Regions from separate parts of the Homo sapiens genome. Here region 1 is linked to region 2. The links come from fine-mapping of genetic effects on gene expression. A gene starts in region 2. The other region holds a variant in brackets. All regions are shown on one strand. Distances are from middle to middle. Region 1 has its middle 33 kb from the start of RXYLT1. Region 2 holds the start of RXYLT1 (ribitol xylosyltransferase 1).

The links. PIP is the estimated chance that this variant, and not a neighbour inherited with it, causes the effect.
Region 1: its variant is fine-mapped to the expression of RXYLT1 in cerebellum (GTEx, PIP 0.98).

What each region holds. Positions count from the first base shown.
Region 1 is chr12:63,744,538-63,748,937 of GRCh38, reverse strand. No RefSeq gene overlaps it. Among named protein-coding and RNA genes, the nearest start is that of RXYLT1, 33 kb to the left of the region's middle. The variant T/C (reference allele first, on the strand shown) is at 2,013.
Region 2 is chr12:63,777,165-63,781,564 of GRCh38, reverse strand. RXYLT1 (ribitol xylosyltransferase 1) reads right to left here and starts at 1,656. Exons shown (of 6, transcript NM_014254.3): 1 at 1,436-1,656; 2 at 391-546. The coding sequence starts at 1,604. RefSeq lists silencers at 1,288-1,587, 1,316-1,591, 1,608-1,837.

The DNA of each region.
Region 1 (4,400 bases), 33 kb after region 2:
TAATACTACATTCTTCCAGCCAGGAGATCAGGAGAGGAGTTGGTCCTAGCTCTGTCATTAGCTTTCTGTGAAATCCTGAGCAGGTCATTTGGGGTCTTGACCACTGTTTGCTTACCTGTTAAATGAGAACATAACTCAAATGCTCTTGCTGGCCTGAGAGCACAAACAAGGCCACATAATTCTGATGGCTCTTATCAGCCCTTGCTCCACCCAGGTTTCTCACCCTGCAGTCCCTGCAGCCTATTACTTCCGATATCCCTGGGTAGTGGAGTGGGGAGGCATCTCAAATGTTCTCTTCAAGTCTGATCTGGTTTCCCACAATCTCTTATTGCCAAGGTACCTTAGTACCACTTCTTTTGCCAATGCCCTTCCAGAGAGTGATGGCATCAAGGCCATTCATTGTTGATCTTGAGTCCTCAGAGTATCCCAAACTGCACTGAGCCCATGGTACAGTGAGGATCAGGCATGATCTCCACCAGTTCTGCTCGACATTTGTTAACCCAACACCAAACTTGCTCTCCTTACTCTCAGATACTCATGAAGTCATTCACAAAACTAGTTCTTTCAGCATCTATCCCCCAACAAAGTCTCAAAAACAGCTCTTTCAGCTATTGGCAGTTGATTGCCATCTCATTTCCCTCCTCCGTCTGGCTATTACGCCACCCCGGAACTTTAATCTTCCTCCCTGACCCTCCCACCCAAAGCAAAAACCAAATCCTTGCCTAGCAACCCATGGAAACATAGAATGATTCAAAAAGAATTGATTTCTTAAAAAAAAAAATGAGTAGGCCAGACGTGGTGGCTCATGCCTGTAATCCCAGCACTTTGGGAGGCCGAGGCGGGTAGATCATGAGGTCAGGAGATTGAGACCCCGTCTCTACTAACAATACAAAAAATTAGCCAGATGTGGTGGCGGGTGCCTGTTGTCCCAGCTGCTTGGGAGGCTTAGGCAGGAGAATGGCATGAACCTGGGAGGCGGAGGTTGCAGTGAGCCGAGATCGCGCCACTGTGCTCCAGCCTGGGCGACAGAGTGAGACTCCATATTAAAAAAAAAAAAAAAAAGTAATGAGGTTCTATATGTAGTCAATGAGGTTCTTTATGTGGTCAATACCAATTTATAAAGAAATTATAGCTGTCCCTCTATATCCATGAGAGACTGGCTCTAGCACCACCTGCAGATAACAAAATCCACAGATGCTCAAGCCTCTTATATAAAGTGGTATAGTATTTGCAGATAACCCACACACATCCTCCTGTACACTTTAAATAATCTCTAGATTACTTATATAATGCGTACACATCTCCTCATTCATGTGGATTCAACATAGTCCTCAGTGTGTGGCAAATTCAAATTTTGCCTTTTGGAACTTTGTGAAGTTTTTTCCCCCTAAATATTTTTGATCCATGGTTGGTTGAATCTACTGATGGGGAACCTATGGATATGGAGAGCCAACTGTATTTCTATTAATGTTTCCAGTTATTTCTATGATATTTAAGAGAACAAAAAATATTTTTATCATCTTTAAGCCTATTATGAGCCCCTCATGTCACATGGTACACAGCAATCCTGTAATCAAATTCATCCCAGGCCACATTCATCATCAATGATTAACATGCTGCCCATGATGCTACTTCATTTCCTGCAGGCTGCCAGAAAGAGGTGGTACAAACAAGAGTTTCCTGACATAACTCCATGTGCATAGGAATGTAAATTTAAAGCTAATCACTGAGAAATAAAAATTTTGAAATTGTTCAATTTTTAAAAATTCACTCTGTTCCTAGCACCACCAGCCAAATAGTCCTACCTTAATCCTACCCTAATCCTGTTTTACAGCCTGGACTCAGCTAGACCCTGCTACTAAAACATTAAACCAAAGGATATTGAGGATTCCTTTCCGCTCTGTATCACACGGTTATATACTAAAGGCACATAGTATTGCGAGGGCGATAAATACAAACAAAATTAAACAGAACAAAAGACAACAGTACTGAAGGAGCACAGAAAAGAAGAA[T/C]GACATCAGGGAATGATTATTAGTCTTAGCTTTGGAACTGGAACTTGAAGAATGAGTAAGATTGGCTGGGTGGAGTTGAGATGATACGGTTTGGCTGTGTCCACACCTGAATCTCACCTTGAATTGTAATAATCCCCACGTGTCAAGGTTGGGGCCAGGTGGAGATAATTGAATCACGGGGGTGGTTTCCCCTATACTGTTCTCATGGTAGTGAATAAGTCTCGCGAGATCTGGTGGTTTTATAAACAGGAGTTCCTCCGCACACGCCCTTTTGCCTGCCGCCACGTGAGTCGTGCTTTTGCTCCTCCTTTGCCTTCTGCCATGATTGTGAGGCCTCCCCAGGCAGGTGAGACTGTGAGTCAATTAAACGTCTTTCCTTTATAAATTACTCAGTTTTGGGTATATCTTTTTTAGCAGTGTGAGAACAAACTAATACATGAGGTAAGGGCAACCCCCAGGAGAGAAAACCATAATAATGTTCTTTTGGAGAAGAACTCTCTCTCCTTTGTTTTTTGTGAGTCTTTCATAATTTTTCTTTTAGCAGTTTGTTTCCATCAATTACTTTAAATTTAATGCCATCTTCTCACGAACAAATTAGTATTACAAAGCAATTTATTGTCTGATCACTGAGCCAGTTATAACTAAATGCTACTGATTAACATGGATATTTGGTCCTTGCTTAATGTTATTTCAAAAATTAAATTTCCAACTTGTTGAACTGCCTATTCTCAGATCTTTTCATAGGAAATAATCTAGTGCCTTAAGCTGCTTGGACTATACAGGAGCCCATTAAAGTTGATTAAATTTTAATTTTTTTCTAATGAATCCTATTTATATTTATTCTCCCATCATACTGTTACTTATCAAATTAACTCTCTTCACTTGTCACTTTTTTTAATAGAAAAATGGAGCTTATTTTCTGTCCTTTTTAAAGCAAAACATCTAGATTTGTTTTCTGTAGCATGAGATTCATTCTAAGGTGAATTCCTTAGCCTATAAAGCAAGGTTTCTATTTCCTCCTCTTTTTTTTTTTTTTTTTTTTTTTTTTGAGACAGAGTCTTGCTCTGTCACCCTGGCTGGAGTGCAGTGGTGTGATCACGGCTCACTGCAGCCTTGACCTCCTGGGCTCTGGTGATCCTCTCACCTCGGCCTCCTGAATAGGTGGAACTACAGGCACGTGCCACAAAGCCCGGCTAATTTTTCTATTTTTTGTAGAGACAGGGTTTCTTCATGTTTCCTGGGCTGGTCTTGAAATCCTGGGCTCAAGTGATCAGTCAGTCTTGGCCTCCCAAAGTGCTAGGATTATAGGCATGAGCCACTATGCCCTGCCCATGGTTTCTACTTCTAAAACCACCAGAGAGACTTGTTAAAACATCATTTTAATCTACAAAACCAAGTTTTGGTTAGGACATATAGAACACTGAATGGAAAACTACATTAGGATTAACAAAACCTAGTCCTATATTAATTTTGCATCAGATTTGTATCATCCTGGATAAGCACATGGACCTCTGAATTGTGGTCTTTTCATTTCTATCATCATTCCTGTTATGTTTGTGGGAATGGTGGGAGGGTTAAAGCATTGTCAAAAGCCTTAGTTTATTCTTTGAATCTCTGTGGTGCTTTTGAAAACTATTGTTCAATCAACTTAATCTGGGATGAGGTAATATATACAGTAGTTCAATACTAGAAATCATTGCCTGGTGACCAGAGCCAGTGATTTTAGGTACATGAGTTTAAATATAATTTCAAATTTAAACTTTAATGTAACCAAGAAGGTATCTCTTTGTGAAATCTCCCCTACTATCCTAGAAATTTAATTTCTCCTTTCTAATTCTGTACCTTGTATAACTAATCTGGCACATATCTTGATATACTGTAATTTTTAGGGTCCACTATTGTACTGCACATTCCTTAAGGAAAAGGGCTGGACTTCATTTATTCTCAAGGGCAGCAGGGTGGAGAATGAGTAAGACACAGGCTCAAAAGCCAACCTGCTGGCTTTAAATCCAGGTTACACCACTGGCCGTCTCTGTGATCTTAATATCTCCCTCCCATAGTTTTCTCAGTTTTAAAATGAAGACATTAATAAAAGCATCTTGCTAGTTGGGATTAAAGAAATGAATATATGTCATTGGGGTCAATTCAAGTTTTATAGGCCTAAAGTTTAAACAATTTTGTAGAACTCCTTAAGAGAAAGAAAACAAAATTTAGTGTGGAAATAGATATATTTAAAGTGATGAAAGAACAAGTTACACACACAAAAAAAACACAGAATGTAGCAAGCTATCTTAAGAAAACTAAGAGCCTAATGTACCTCTATAATTTTTCCTTCTTTTTTGGCTATATGTTCTTTGATTGCATTTTCATACAAAAAGTTTACTATTG
Region 2 (4,400 bases):
ACTCTTCAGTGTTTCCCAAATGTGTTTGGCCATCAAGGGCAGGGGCCACATCTTATACTTGTGTATCAAGTGTCCAAAAAATACACAGATTCATGAAAATTCAGTTGACATATGCATTGCAATCTAATGACACTATACAGCCTACTCAATGTATCAATAAATGAAGCTGTGCTCTGCTAAAGACCAACAGTGGAATATGTATGTGTGTACATTTACAAACAGATGTTGTCTAATTGGAAGGAGAAAGGAATTATTGACAAAAAGCGAAAAAATATATCATGATGCCTTAATTAACAAATTATGAAATAAATTATATTAAAATGAATTTCATATCAATAAAATACATTTTATAATGCTTTTTACATGTCTTCCTTCTACGTATTAACTTACCAATGGCAGCTTTGCCCCAGATTTGTACACTGAGATCTGTTTTTCCTTTCGTGGATTTATCTAATATTTGAAGGCTAGTTTTAAATCTGTGTTGTTGCTCATTTTTTTCATCTCCTTCCCAAGGATTCCATTCTTCACTTTCCAAAGTGGACTGTTCTGTTTTAAAAAGAGTAAGTGTTTACCAGTAAGGTATTATTGCAGTTGTAGGTAAATTCAAATCATTTAAATTAAGTGTTAGTTCTAATTTCATCCTAACTTTAATTTCTGAGAGGTACAGCAACTGAATTTAAACTGGTAATACACAATGAAAACAAAAAAGAAAATCAGCAATTTTTTTACTGAACTTTTTTTACTCTGAAAAGTCTTAGAAATAAAATGCTACCTTGAGACAGGAAAATTCTCTTCCCCAACACAAAACCTTTAAAAATAACAGGATAATATGTATCAAGTTACAAGCTTAACTTTTGCAATTATTTTTATCCATTGTATACAGGTAACCTATGCACAAAAAACTGACTTCAGAGTGTAGTGTTCACCAGTCTTAGATACTATCGTGCAAAATTCTGAATAAAGGGAAAGAGAAAGCCGAGTCTGATCTTAACACAAGTTAAAACACAGGACAGGGGACCAGAATTTGGAGGTAAAGTCTGCCTTATGGTCACTGCAGGATTAGAGAGGGCTTTGTTTCAACATGGAAACGGATGTCTTAAACCTTGCGGCGATTTTGAGGCCTTCCAGGAGCATTCCCGCAAATCTCTGGCATTTGAGACGACGTCTTGGATTTTAACACGTGTTTGAAAGGCGTGCGCGCCTGTCACCCCCTGGGATCGGGAGCGGGGACGGCGTGTGAGATCTGGGTAAGAATGAGGACCATTCTCCAATTCCGAGCCAAGGGCTGGCTCGAGAGGCTGTAGGGGGCAAAGCGCTTCTCAGGCCCTGCGGGTAATCCCGGACTTGAGAGCCGGGTGCGGGGACCCGGCCCCAGCCGCCCAGCAGCCCCAGCCAGGAGCGCAGAGCCGGAAGGAAGCCGCCGACCCAGTCCTACCTCGGCCGCGTCTCTCCCGCGCGGGGGCCGCCCCCTTCCTGAGGCCCCGCGGGGACCCGGCCGGCGCCTGGCGGCGGCGCCCGAAGAAGACGTGGTAGGCAGCGTAGAGGGAGAATAGGCAGTACAGGGCGATAAGAAACGAGCAGAGCCGCTTCCGCGTCAGCCGCATCCCACTCGGGCTTCCAGTCAGGCATCCACCGCCATGGAGCGGGCGGAAAGAGAATCCGCGACACCGGCGGCGTCCGAGGCAGGCCCAGCCCGTTTCCAGGCAGTCCCCAGCCAAGGCTCCTCCGCCCAGCGCCCGGTACAGCCCCGCCCCGGACACGCCCACCGCCCGCCTCCCGCCCAGGCCCCGCCCCCTCCAGTCGCGGCTCATCCACCCGGCCGAGGGCCTGCCCACCTTCGACACTGGAGGAGGGGGTACTGGAGCGGCCCCTACCCCACGCTGCTTCCAGACGCCGGGCTGAGTGGGAACCTCTCTGACCTCTGCCGTGTACTCATTGCACCTTTCAACCCTGGCCACTTTTCCCAAGTACATAAAGACTCGGGGGAAAAAGAACACCCGCGGTGGTCCATGAAGGCCATGTGAAGGCATGGACTGTGACGTTTTTTGCTCTGCATGGAATCCCTAGCGCCTAGGACAGTGCCTACTACGTTGATAGATGAGTGAATATAAACGTCCTTTAAAAAAATTAAGTGATGATGGTCGCTTAACATTGTGAATGTAATTAATACCACTCACTTGTATGCATAGAAATAGTTAAACTGTCGAATTCATGTTTTATATACCTTACTGCAATAAAAACATTTTTAAAGTTAAGTTTCATTATTATGTGAGTTGAACGCACATAGGCATGCAGTATTTTGTCAAATAGAGGCTGTAAATGTGAATGCTTCAGAAAACTTTGTATCCAGCCTTGGGAAGATGGGCTACAATGTTTTGTCAGTTGCTCTGGTACTACTGTTCAAATTACCCAGCAGTCTTGCGACGGTATGTCTGCTAATTAGGGTGACCAATGGTCCCAGTTTGCCCAGGACTGTAAGGATTCTCCAGTTGGAGGATTTTTAGTGCTAAAATTGAGAAAGTCCTAGGAAATCAGTAAAATTGGTCACTCTAGCACCGACCCTAAACTATTAGGTCAAACACTTTACCCAATCCCCCAAACAGTTCCCTGCCTCAAAAGACCTGTTTTAAACCATTTTTGCTCAGACTCCCCAAATCCTATAAATATCACCCCCAACCTTCTCCTTCTGAGACTGCCAAGCTTCTGTCAAAGTGTGGCCTCCCTTACTGTAGTAGATTTAATAAATTTAGCTTTCCTTGATTAACAGGCTATTCTGGTGTCTTAGGGAGATGGCAGTTGTTTTATGTATGCTGTATTGTTGTTTATCCTATTTTGTTTGTTTGTGGAAATGACAATTATTTAAGGATAGGAAGTAATTACCTTATAATTACCACAAAACACCCACTGTATCAATGTACATTCAGATGCTACTGACTAATGGTTTTACTATTGAGAAATGCATACAAGGTAAAACTAATATGCAGTTGATGTCATCTTGAATAGGGGAGAGGGCCATGAAAATGAAGGAGTTGTTTTACCTCAAACTGCAAATGACTGCATAATTTGATGATAAGCTTTTAAAAATGTATTTAGGTTACAAAGGAATCTTCTAATTGATCTAAGTCTGGCAGAGTTCATTTTCCTTTCTCTTGGTGTTTAATGGTTGAGCTACAGCTGGGAGCTACTTTCTGTATATGCTCTCATCTCTTCAGGTGGATGGAAAGAGAGGGAAAGAGATGTGGTGGGGAATGCAGCAGTGTGGAGGGGGAGACAAGGTTAAATATCCTCTGGGGGTTGAAGCTCCGCATATAGGGAACCAGACCTGAGAAGGAAAGATGTGGGAGGAAGAATAGAAATAAAGGAATATGAGATGAATTAAACTAAAGCAGGGCTAAAATCTTTACTTGGTGAAATTTTCTACTCTGTCTGCAAAGGGAAGAACTATTAATCAACAAGATATTGAGAAAATAGCCCTAATGTCCTAATGCCTTCTTCTAGTTGACTGTGAAATAGTACACGCTTATTCTTAGAAGTCCCCAGTACAAATTTCTTGTGATACCTGGTCAAAATTCTCTTCTTAGTTTATCAAGTTTCCAGTAATACTCAAGAAGTGTGTTAACTACTTTGAGAGATTTTTCACAGCTTGGCCAAGCTTCTGTGTCAAACCCTTTGCAAGATACTTCTAGCAGGGCTTGGCCATGTAAGTTATAAACTATAGCTATTTCAAATTTGTAAGAATCAGTCCTAAGAAGATACATTTTTCTTTTTCATGTGAGTACAATGCTCACAAAAATAAGTAATAAAACTCTACAGAAATATATTGGCATTGGGAAATAGTAAGCAAATTATAACGCCTTCTTTAAACAATCAATCAAACAACATACTAATAACCAACCAAACAGAAACTAGGATGAAGGTTAAAGACAGAACAACTCTGAGGTGAAATTGAAGCAGATGAGCAGAAACAGATTCTGTGCAAACATCACTTCCTCTGTAAATCTTTCCCTCTCCTATTTCCCCTTCCCCACACCCTCTAAACCCTATGCACAGTTTCATCATTGGTGTAACATTTCATCACCAATTTTGTTTATGTATTCCATATGATCCACCAGCCTTAACTAGTGTGATAGTTGTCTATGGACTCTGTTCTACTAAAAGCCCTTATGAGTGGGTGCCACCATGGTGATAGTCTCAGAGAGTGATTCAAGACAGCTTGAACCCATGTGACTCCATCTCTCATTTACCACTGACTTCATTTGCATATGCTGTTTTTCTAATGATATTATTATCATCAACTTGGGGTAGGAGGCTACTGAAAGGCCCCAGGAGTGATATAAATGCATTTCAACCTCTTAAAAATTAAAAAAAAATTTTGTGAGTACATCGTAGGTGTATATATT